2 linked regions of the Homo sapiens genome follow. The protein of the gene in region 2 purifies or fractionates together with the protein of the main gene of each other region. This does not show direct contact. Each region holds a gene or a part of one and is shown on either strand. Other genes may lie near its edges.

Region 1 (5,109 bases), on a different chromosome or scaffold from region 2:
CATGTCTACTGGTGGAAACTTAAATGGGTGCCACTTCTTCAGAGGAAATTTGGCAATATCTATTAAAATGTTCAACCAACCAAGAAAAATCTACATACCCTTTGATCTAACTATTTTGCTTCTAGGAATTCTTTTTCTTGAGATATACCCTTACAAGTCCCAAGGTGTATATGTACAATGATGATTAATGCAGTACATTTTGTATTAGCGAAAGAGAAAATAAAAAATAAACAAATAAGCCTGGCCAACATGGTGAAACCCTGTCTCTACTAAATACAGGTATGATGGTGTGATGGTGCACACCTTTAGACCCAGGTGTGATGGTGCACACCTTTAGACCCAGCTACTAGGGAGGCTGAGGTGGGAGGATTCCTTGAACCCAGGAGGCGGAGGTTGTAGTGAGACTAGACCAGGCCTCTGCACTCCAGCCTGGGCGACAGAACAAGATCCTGTCTCAAAAAAAAATAAATAAATAAAAATAAAAAACAAAAACAAACAGCTTAAATGTCCACCAATGAGAGAATAGTTCAATAAATTCAGGCATATCCATTAGAAGAAGACAAATTTGTATGAATATTTATGGAATGCCCTCTAAGATACATATTAAATGAAAAAGACAAGTGCAGAAGAACATATGGAGAAGAACTGGGTGGCTGGGGGATGGTGTCTTTATAACTCTGAGTTAAGTACTATACATATAGGTTTTATCTTAAAAATAAATTTTATAAAGTGTGAATATCATGATACCTAGCACATATGCATTGTCTTTATTTAAAAACAGACAGTAATAGTAATCTGGCTCAACGCTGGGCACGATGGCTCATACCTGTAATCCTAGCACTTTGTGGGGGCTGAAGCAGGAGGATCGCTACAAGCCTGGGCAACACAGCAAGACCTCGTCTTTACAAAAAAAAAAAAAAATCTGGCTCCATAGAATATGTGCTAGCTTGCTTCTAAATCTTCTTATTGTTTCAAGGATACTCAGAAAGCACTTAGAACAAGGTAAGAACAATCGGATACTTTACTGTCTGCCCAACCTAGCTGTCCTGACCTCCATTCTGTGTAATATGATGCCGGCAGTGATGCTCTGGTGTCTTTAATCAAATATTGAGAAGACTTCCTAAGATTTCCACTGCAAGTAACACTTCTCAACAACTCCTCTCGCAGTGGGGAATTAACCAAAGAGGTATCTCTGTTCATCTTTAGAATGACTATAAGAAATCAGGCAACCTATGTTTGCTAAAGTCAACCATACTTCCTTTGTATTTATAAGTGTAACTTAAACTAGATACCATCATTCACACACTCATTGATTCTCCAAAGACGTACTGTATACAAGAGTCTGTGTTATTTGCTGCAAGGAATATGATGATGAATAAGACCCAGATCCTACCCTCTTTCAACTCTAGGATTTTAGGAAGTAGTCCGCAGTACATAAATAACTATAATAAAAGATAGAAAGTGAAATATGCCAGAAATAAGTTACAGATGGAATGCTATGGGATTTCAAATGACTGCAATTGTTATTAGCTAAGAAAATTAAAGCAGGGCTAGGTGTGATGGCTCATGCCTATAATCCCAGCACTTTTTAGGAGGCCGAGGTGGGAGGATTGCTTGAGACCAGGAGTTCAAGACCAGCTTGGCCAACATGGTGAAACCCCTGTCTCTAAAAAAAAATACAAAAAGTTAGCTGGTGTGGTGGCATGTGCCTGTAGTCCCAGGTGTGCAGGGGGCTGAGGCAGGAGGATTGCTTGAGCCCAGGAGATTGGGGCTGCAGTGAGCCATGACTGCACTACTGCACTCCAGTCTGGATGGCAGAGCAAGAACCTGTCCCAAAAATAAAAAAAGAAGGAGAAAATTAAAGAAGACTTCATGAAAAATGGCATTTGGGAGACAGGCCCTGATGGGTAGGTAGGATTTGGAAGTTCACAGACAAATCAAAGACATTCCAGGTTTAAGGCAGGGTGTTAGCAAAGAAAAAGTAAAGGGAGCGTATGGAGGACAGAAAGAAGTTAAGACCAACTGACATAGAAAATACAGGAAAGTGCATAGTGGGGAAATAAGACTGGAAAAGTTGGTAAGGGCTAGGCTTTGGGAGGTCTTTAATACTAGGTGTAGGAGTTAAACTTAGTCTGTAGAAGTAGGGAGCCAGTAAAGGTGAACTGAAGAAAGAAGTCAGGGAGATCAGTTAGATAACAATAGTTCAGTTAGACTTAAGACAGAATAGAAAAGCATAGATAGGTATCGAATACGTAAGAAGATTAATCGAGGCCAGGTGTGGTGGCTCACGCCACCCAGCACTTCGGGAGGCCGAGGCGGGTAGATTACGAGGTCAAGAACATCCTGGCCAACATGATGAAACCCCGTCTCTACTAAAATACAAAAAAAAATTTAGCCGGGAACGGTGGCACACGCCTGTAATCCCAGTTACTCGGGAGGCTGAGGCAGGGGAATTGCTTGAACCCAGGAGGCGGAGGTTGCAGTGAGTCAAGATCACGCCACTGCACTCCAGCCTGGGCGACAGAGCGAGACTTAATCTCAAAAAAAAGAAAGATTAATCAGTACTTGGCAACTGATTAGCCAAGGGAAGACAATTCAAGACCATGCTGAGGTTTTGAAGGTGGGTACCAGGAAGAAGGTGGCATCAGTAACTGGAAACAGATTAAGAAGCAGTAAAGGATGGAAATTAAGAATATGGGCTCAGGAATCAGACTGTCTGGATTCAAATCCTGCCTCTAATATTTACTAGCTGTGTGACCCTGGGCAAATTACTTACTCTTTCTAAGCCTTAGTCCCTCATCTAGAAAAAGGAAATAAGCAGAATCTACCTAGGGAGGTTATTTTTTAAAAATACTGATGCTGGGTCCCATGTCAGAAATCGTGAGTAAGTCTGCAGTCATCTTTAGTGGTCTTGAGCATGTGTATTTTCAGAAAGCCTCCCAAGGGATTAGGATACTCACAACTGAGACTCTAAAGGGTAACTTGCAAACCATGTCATTTTAATCTTGCATGGAGGTTTATACAGAAGTCAGTATACAAAATCAGCAGCATCTCAGACACCCAAAGACCTGACCAATCACTTTCACCCAATTTTGTTAGTAGCCATTTGTGAAGAATAGGACTGTCAAAAGGCTAAAAACACAACTTTGGGAAATCCTCCTGATGTGGGCTTCAGAAGCAGCCTGAAAGGAAATTAGACCATGAGACAAAAAGAACCAATAAAGAGGCATGAGCCATACTGCAGGAGCAAAGGTTAAAGCACAATTTACTAACATTCTCCAAGCAGCTCTTCTCCAGCTCCATTAGGGGTTGAGGGGGTACAGGCAGAAAGTGGAGATTACAGAGCTATTAGGATGAATTTACCAAAAGTTGAGCTAATGTTCTTGGGAAGGAATGAGGGTGGAATCTTCCACAATGATCTTTGAGAGCAAGAGAGGCCACCTTGGCTAAATAGTGGGCTCCTGCTGGTAACAGTGGGGTGGATGAAGTTACCCTGAGATTCCTTTAACCTTAGGAATTAACGTTCTTAATTTCCGGCTAGAAAATGGTTAGAGACTCCTCCCGTGCCAGCACCCCAACAAGCTCTCTGGGACCTACCTTTAAACTCCATGTTAGTAGCATCATCCAGAAGTTCCTCCTTCATGGTATTAAGTGTCTCAACAATCATATCCTTCATTTCCTCCTGCTTTCGGTTGGCAATATTCATCAATGATTCATACAACTCATTCTCCTTTTTTCGAGTATATTCCAGACGTTTGGGAGTGATCTGCAGGTCCCGCTGCATGTCAAATGCCTGGTTAATAAAGATGTCAAGGCAGTGGCAGTGCACCAGGTTCAGGGCCTTGGCTGCATCCACCAGGCGAGTCTGTAACACCTGGTGAGAAAATGTGCTCAAGTGTCTCAGCTTTTCACTCTGTTCCACCAACATGCTCTGAGCTTTAGTATCCTGGCCAGGAGCCCCACAGTTCCAGTGACTGCTGCTCAGATAGCCCAGGTCAATTAGCTGGCGATAAAGCGGTGATCTTTCGCTCTCCATTCTCCTGGTTGAGGAGTCTATTATCTCCGAGCCCAGTTTCGGCACTTTGAAAAAGAATACAGGAAAGGAGAAATACTTTCGGATTTCCTGAAGCTCTTGCTCATCCCTCTCAGAGAGTTCATCTTTGTGGAGTGCATAGGTTATCACAGGCAAGAAATCATTCACCAAGTCACCCAGAACATCCACTGTGGGCCGGAGGCCTTGGCATGGTGCTACCACAACGTCCACTTCCTGGAAGGGGAAGGGGGTCATATATCAGCGCCTCAGGGTCAGAACCAATCCCTGTCTCCCCAAAGTCCCACACTGAGACCAAAATCCTGATCTACAATGGAACAATTGGACTTCGGTACCCCAGCCATTGATCCACCTCCTTCCTCGGTTACCAACACTCCCTGGTGCAGCCTATGAAGGCAGGCACTCATCTAGAGAGAGTGAAAAAACAAAGAAGTAGAAAGGATGGCAACCCCTTTAGCCATCAGATTAAAAAAAAATTTTGGTCTCTGCCTTCCTTTATTGCTTAGACATTCCCACTGATTCCCTCTGATGAAGAATTAAGACAAATAATGGAAGAAAAAGGAATTGTAATGGAAATTATCAGACTGGGAGTGAGTCGACCTGGGGCACTCCTCCCCCTCTTGCTCTCCTCTGACACCTCCATCCCTGCCATTCTGACCTGGCTAACTCCTAAGCATCCTTTAAGTTTCAATGTATATGTTATGACATATCCTTATAGAGCCTTTCCTATCACACAGCCCCAACCAAGCACACTTTACTTCCCTCTTCTTAAGGTTCAACATATTTATAATCCACTTCTTTAAAACCTTTCTTTCCCCCATGGGTCTGTAAACTCTTTGAGGGCAGGGACTGGGTCTATTTTGCTTACTATCGTAGCTCCAGTGCCTAGCATGTGGTAAGTCCTAAATACTGTTGAATTAATCAATTAAGCAGGAAACGAAAAGCCAGGTTCACCAAACATTATTACTGTCCTGTTCTGAGTCTGTAGATATCCCGAAGTCTTAGCAACCTAAGTCTAAGAAATACCTTTAGGAATATGATCGATCACTTGGTATGGC
Region 2 (5,109 bases):
GTTGTGTCCTAGATGGATGGGTCAGGGTGCCTGGGAGCCATTTCCTTCTCTGCCTCACTGCACTGGAAAGAGAGAAGCTTCAGATGGTGCTTCCTTTCCTCCCACAGCCAAGTCTGTCAGCCTGTCTGCATCTGGACCCTTCTGCTTGGACATCCTCTGCTGTCCTGAAGGCAAGAGCCTGCTCTTAGCAAGTCCTGGAGAAGTGCCCTCACAATCACCCCTACAGACAGATGCCCTTAACAAAGTTATGCCATGCTCAGATGGAAGAGAATGATCTCAGTGTGCCCACTCACCAGGTAAGTTTTAGAAAAGGTCTTCATTGTTATCGCCAAGATCCCTGAAATGAGAAACTGCAGGACAGATTTGAAAGTCAAAGGAGAGAAGCTGGGGTTCCTCAAAACCCACAAATTCCCACCCCCACCCCTATTCTCCAAGAAAATCAACCCTTGGCGGCCAGTGGGGCAGGGAATACTATTCCTCCAGCAAAGTGAGCTCCTCTTGCCTGCCATGTGGCCCATCCAAGAAGCTGCCCCACCTCACATCTTCCCATGTGCACAAACCTCCATACCTCCTCCCATCTCTACACCTTGGACCAAGCTGTGCCCTGCACTTAGAACTCCCTCCTAGACCCTCCTGCTTCCCTCATTTTACAAACCCAAACCATCGCTGGGATCAGTGGCACTATCCCCTCCACCCCGACTGTTTCTCTTTTCTTGAATCTTGCAGTTGGGAGGATATGAGTTCTTGCTTCCAAGGTCTCTGGGAGCACCTCTGCAATCATTCTTTCCAATGTGCACTGAGCACCTACTATGGGCTAGTCCCTGGGAGCACAGGGTGAATAAGCACTGCATGTGTGGAAAGTTCTATCACTGTGCAGTGAAAGCCCCATCCTGTGGGCAGTGAGAACAGTGGACTGATGTGAAAGGGGGATTGGGATACTTGCCCAAGACAGTGCCGTGGAGCTTGGACTTAGTGCATAGGCAGGACTCCACCTGGGAGTCAGGAATGGGGTGGGCTCCCTGGAGACCTGAAGGAATGTAGAGCTTCTGGGAAATGGTGCATGCACTGGTCCAGTGTCATCTCCCATCCTGGCTGATGGCCTTGGGAGGACAGGAGCCACACCTTACACCCTGTGTGTTTTTGTAGCTCAACCCCAACAGGGCACCTGTAGCTGGATCCAGAGGCAGCCTGGCTGCTCAGAAGGCTGGGGAAGAATGAAGCTGTCCCTGGGTCTTACTCACCCTCCTCTTTGCCAAATGCACATATTCAATTATGGGAGAATGGATAGCCTCCAAGTGCTCTCTTGGGACTCAGAATTGACAGGGGCTCCCTGGAAGGAGCTATTTCCATTGTGACTAAGATAAAAGAAGCAGAGCTAGGAACACTGGAGAAAGGGCCTCGCTTCTGCCGCACTCCTATTAGCTCTCTCTATCCCACCCTGCATCCTGTCCCAAATGCCAGGGCCTCCCAGGCCTGCCTTGCAGACTCCCACACCCGGTCTGTGTTTTGCCTTCTACTCACAGAGGCAGCCCCCCAGAATGGATACCAAGACTTCAGCACCACCAGGTGAAGGTTCTTGACTATAGAGGCCAGGTAGCCCCCAAAGACCAGGTGCAGCAGAGCGATGGTGATGTGGAAGGCCTGGGTGGGGAAGAGAGAATGGCTGGGGTGAGGGCATCGGTCACTGGCTCTAATTGAGGCCACTAGTGCCCTGGACCTACTGGCTGTGGTGAGTCCCTTCTGTCCTCTTAGGGATCCCAGAGACCAGGCTCTCTAAGAAGGACCACTCCCCAGGATTTCCTGCAGAAAGAGCTGAAGCTGCCAAGGGCCCCATGGGTGGGAGCTATCTATCCTGGAGCTGGCAGCCTTCTGCCATTCTCCCCAGGACAGGGCCCTGTCCAAACCTCACAAGGCAGTAGTAGGTGTGGGCAGATTCTCTCCAATCTTCAAGGCCTTTTCCAGTTCAGATGAATGTTCAGCAGGAAAGCTGGAGCCTTTCTCTTTTCCCTTTCTTCCCTTGGGGCCCCCCAGCATCCTCCTCATATCCCCCTCTCCTCTGCCTCCCACTGCTGGGACCCTGGGAAGTGGATGCTCACCCCCAGCTCCTTAAGAAGGCTGCTCTTCTTCTGGGACTTCTCGTGCTGGTGTGGAGCCAGGAGCTTGGGCTGGGTCGTGTTCTGGGGTGCACTTGTCTGCCAGGGCTGGACTGGGCTGAGGACTTGCCATGATGGGAGCCCCCTAGCACAACGGCTGGGAATAACTGTGGCTTCTGCTTTCATTGATGCTGGATGGGGGCCCTGGCTGCAGGACGGGGAGGAAGGCCGTCAGAACCCGTCTCATTTCTGAGGCTTGTGCCTGGGTGAGCCTCTGCCAATCACCTCTGTTTAAGGGACCAGATCTTTCCAGAACTGTGGTTGCCCTGTCTGGCAGCCCCTGGTCTTGGTCTTGATTTGACCTGGAATAATCTGGCCCCTGGAGATGGGAGTAATTGCTGCTCACAGCCTTTCTGGGGTTGCAAAGACACAGCTCCTTTTGGGGCAGAAAAATGAGGACCAGGCAAACTTCACAACCAGTGGAAGACAGAGCTCACCCAAAGTGGCCAGACTGCAGTTTGGAAGAGTTGGGAGGTGCGAGAGGTGCAGGTCAATGGAGGGGCTTTGTAAACAGTCTCCATCCACTGGTCCAAGAAGAGTGACTGAAGGCAGGTGGGAAATAATTGTCCTACCTCCTGTGGTGGTGCCCATGCCTCCTGGAGAGAAGGGAAGAAAATATCTTCCACCGAGGACTTTTTATGAGCCAACACTGAGTCAGGAAGTCCATATTTAACGATGCTAACATTTACAAATACTTTCTCTGCTCCAGGCACTGAGATAAACCTTCTACGTGCATTACCTGATTTTGTCCTCATTCCAACCCTATGAGGTAAATACCGTCCTCACTCTCATTTTGCAGATGAGGCTCAGAAAGGTTAAGCCACTTGCCCATGGTCACACAACCAGTAAGTGACTTGGACTTGAAGCATGGCAGGCTGGCTCCAGAGCCTGGGGCTTAAGTCCTTCATGCACTGTTGGCTCAACAATTGGAAATGAATGTTCTGGATGTTCTCATGGGCACAAAAAGGAGTTGGGGAAAAAAGTTAGAAGGGGGCTGGACACACGACCTGCAGACAGGGCCTGGTATAGTGTATACTGACGCCGTGGGATGCACTAGGGCTTGGGGGCTGCCTGGGACTTGGTGAGAAAATCCAACGTAGTCTTTCTGTCCCAGGAAGTGGACAGCTGGGCGGGGAAGAAAGGGAGCTGGCTTGCAGGGATTGAGGTCAGAGATGGTTTCTCCATGGGGATGGGGCTAATGAGCAAATCCTTGAGAGAGAGAGGCTGCTCTCAGACTGTATCCTGGATGAATGAAAAGGGAGGGCCATTCCTCTCACTTTTAAGTCTGACTTGTGGATCCAGGAAGTTCCATTGAGCATCCACATTTTCCACAGGGATGCAGGGAAAGAGTTTTGGGAAGTTTGGAGGGACAAATAGCCCAGGTGACTATATCCTGGATTGGGTAGAGGGGAAAGGAAGGGACATTATCAAGAGCCAAAGAGCCAGATGGGGCCTCACAGTTGGGTGAGCACTGTATGCCGGGCACTGTGCCAGGAGGCAGTTTTGCCTGGCAACCTCCCTTAATACTCAGGAAGTCAGCACCATTGCATAGAAGAGGAAACCAAGGTTCAGAGAGGTTGCCTGCCTTGGCCATGGTCACACAGTGAGGAAGTGCCTGGAATTGGAACCACGCATGGTCTTACTCCATCGCCAGTGCTCTGGGCCTGGGCTGCTGGGTAGGACCCCCTGATTGATATCTCCATGGTCCTGCAGTGACGACCGCTGATTTAGTGGGGTGAGTGGGCAGAGGGTCTCCCTCTTTCCTGGGCTTCAGAAGCTGAGCTCATAGACACAGTGCTGTATGATTCTTTTTGTGACTCTGCCCAGCTATGCATGGGAACTGTCCCTCTGGGAACTGTCCCTTGGGAAGGTTCCCAAGCCTTCAGAAGTCCGTCTGACACAGCTAGCTGGACTAAGGGATGTATTCGGTGGCAGAGGCCTGAACCAGGTTAGCCACTGGCTTCACCTAGACTCTGCACACCTGGGAGGACAATACCTGGACCCAGGCCTGGACTCCACTGCAAAGAACAGAAGAAGAGGGACTTCTTAGTAGAGCTGCCTTGGATGGAACTGCTTGTCCACGGAGATAGTGAGTGCCTGGGCACTGGAGCTGTACCTCCACCTAGACATTCACTTGTGAGAGCTGTGGCAGTAGGAATGGTTCAAATATCCAACAGGGAGTTGGACTCAAGAATCCAGAATAACCTTTCTCAAAGTATGTTCCATGGAACATTGGTCCTGATGTATCTGCAGTAAAAGGGTTCCATGGTCAAATAAGTTTGAGAAACCATGGTTAGCCTCTTCTCCCTTTTTCTCATATTAAAGACTCTGAGATTTTCTACAAGTGGCACACTCTGTTTTAGTATTAAGGGCATTTCCCAAACTTAATTGGCCATATAATCTTTATTATTTATTTATTTATTTATTTATTTATTTCTATTTTTGAGACGGAGTTTCGCTCTTGTCACCCAGGCTGGAGTGTAGTGGCGTAATCTTGGCTCACCGCAACCTCCGCCTCCCGGGTTCAAGTGATTCTCCTGCCTCAGCCTCCTGAGTAACTGGGATTACAGGCACCTGCCACCACGCCCTGCTAATTTTGTATTTTTAGTAGAGATGGGGTTTCTTCATGTTGGTCAGGCTGGTCTCAAACTCCCGACCTCAGGTGATCCGCCTACCTTGGCCTCCGAAAGTGCTAGGATTACAGATGTGAGCCACTGCGCCCGGCTGGCCATAGGATCTTTTTTTTCTCATTGTCTAACGGTTCTATGCAATTGGTATTCTGTGGGGTCTGCTTTTGGGCAAAGTGGCCTTGAAGGTTTCAATTTCTGGTCCTGGGCTCTGGTTTTTGGCCTTTTCTCTGCTTTTGGTTTGCTCACGTGCATATCACAGTGGGAATGGGAATTGAGTGATGATCTCTAAGGTCCCTTCCAACTTTAAATATAATACTTCTCTCACG

Evidence for each region. The genes of interacting proteins can lie anywhere in the genome.
Region 1: the proteins of MS4A10 (region 2) and DSTYK purify together in Homo sapiens (affinity purification with mass spectrometry; one large-scale study listed by BioGRID and IntAct). This does not show direct contact.

The regions. Positions count from the first base shown.
Region 1 is NC_000001.11:205,165,566-205,170,674, forward strand, and holds part of DSTYK (dual serine/threonine and tyrosine protein kinase), read right to left. Parts: intron 4,268-5,109; coding exon 3,598-4,267; intron 1-3,597. UniProt on the Homo sapiens protein: Acts as a positive regulator of ERK phosphorylation downstream of fibroblast growth factor-receptor activation. Involved in the regulation of both caspase-dependent apoptosis and caspase-independent cell death.
Region 2 is NC_000011.10:60,787,506-60,792,614, reverse strand, and holds part of MS4A10 (membrane-spanning 4-domains subfamily A member 10), read right to left. Parts: intron 2,302-5,109; 5' UTR 2,280-2,301; coding exon 2,097-2,279; intron 1,642-2,096; coding exon 1,522-1,641; intron 351-1,521; coding exon 294-350; intron 291-293; exon of another isoform or gene 108-290; intron 1-107. UniProt on the Homo sapiens protein: May be involved in signal transduction as a component of a multimeric receptor complex.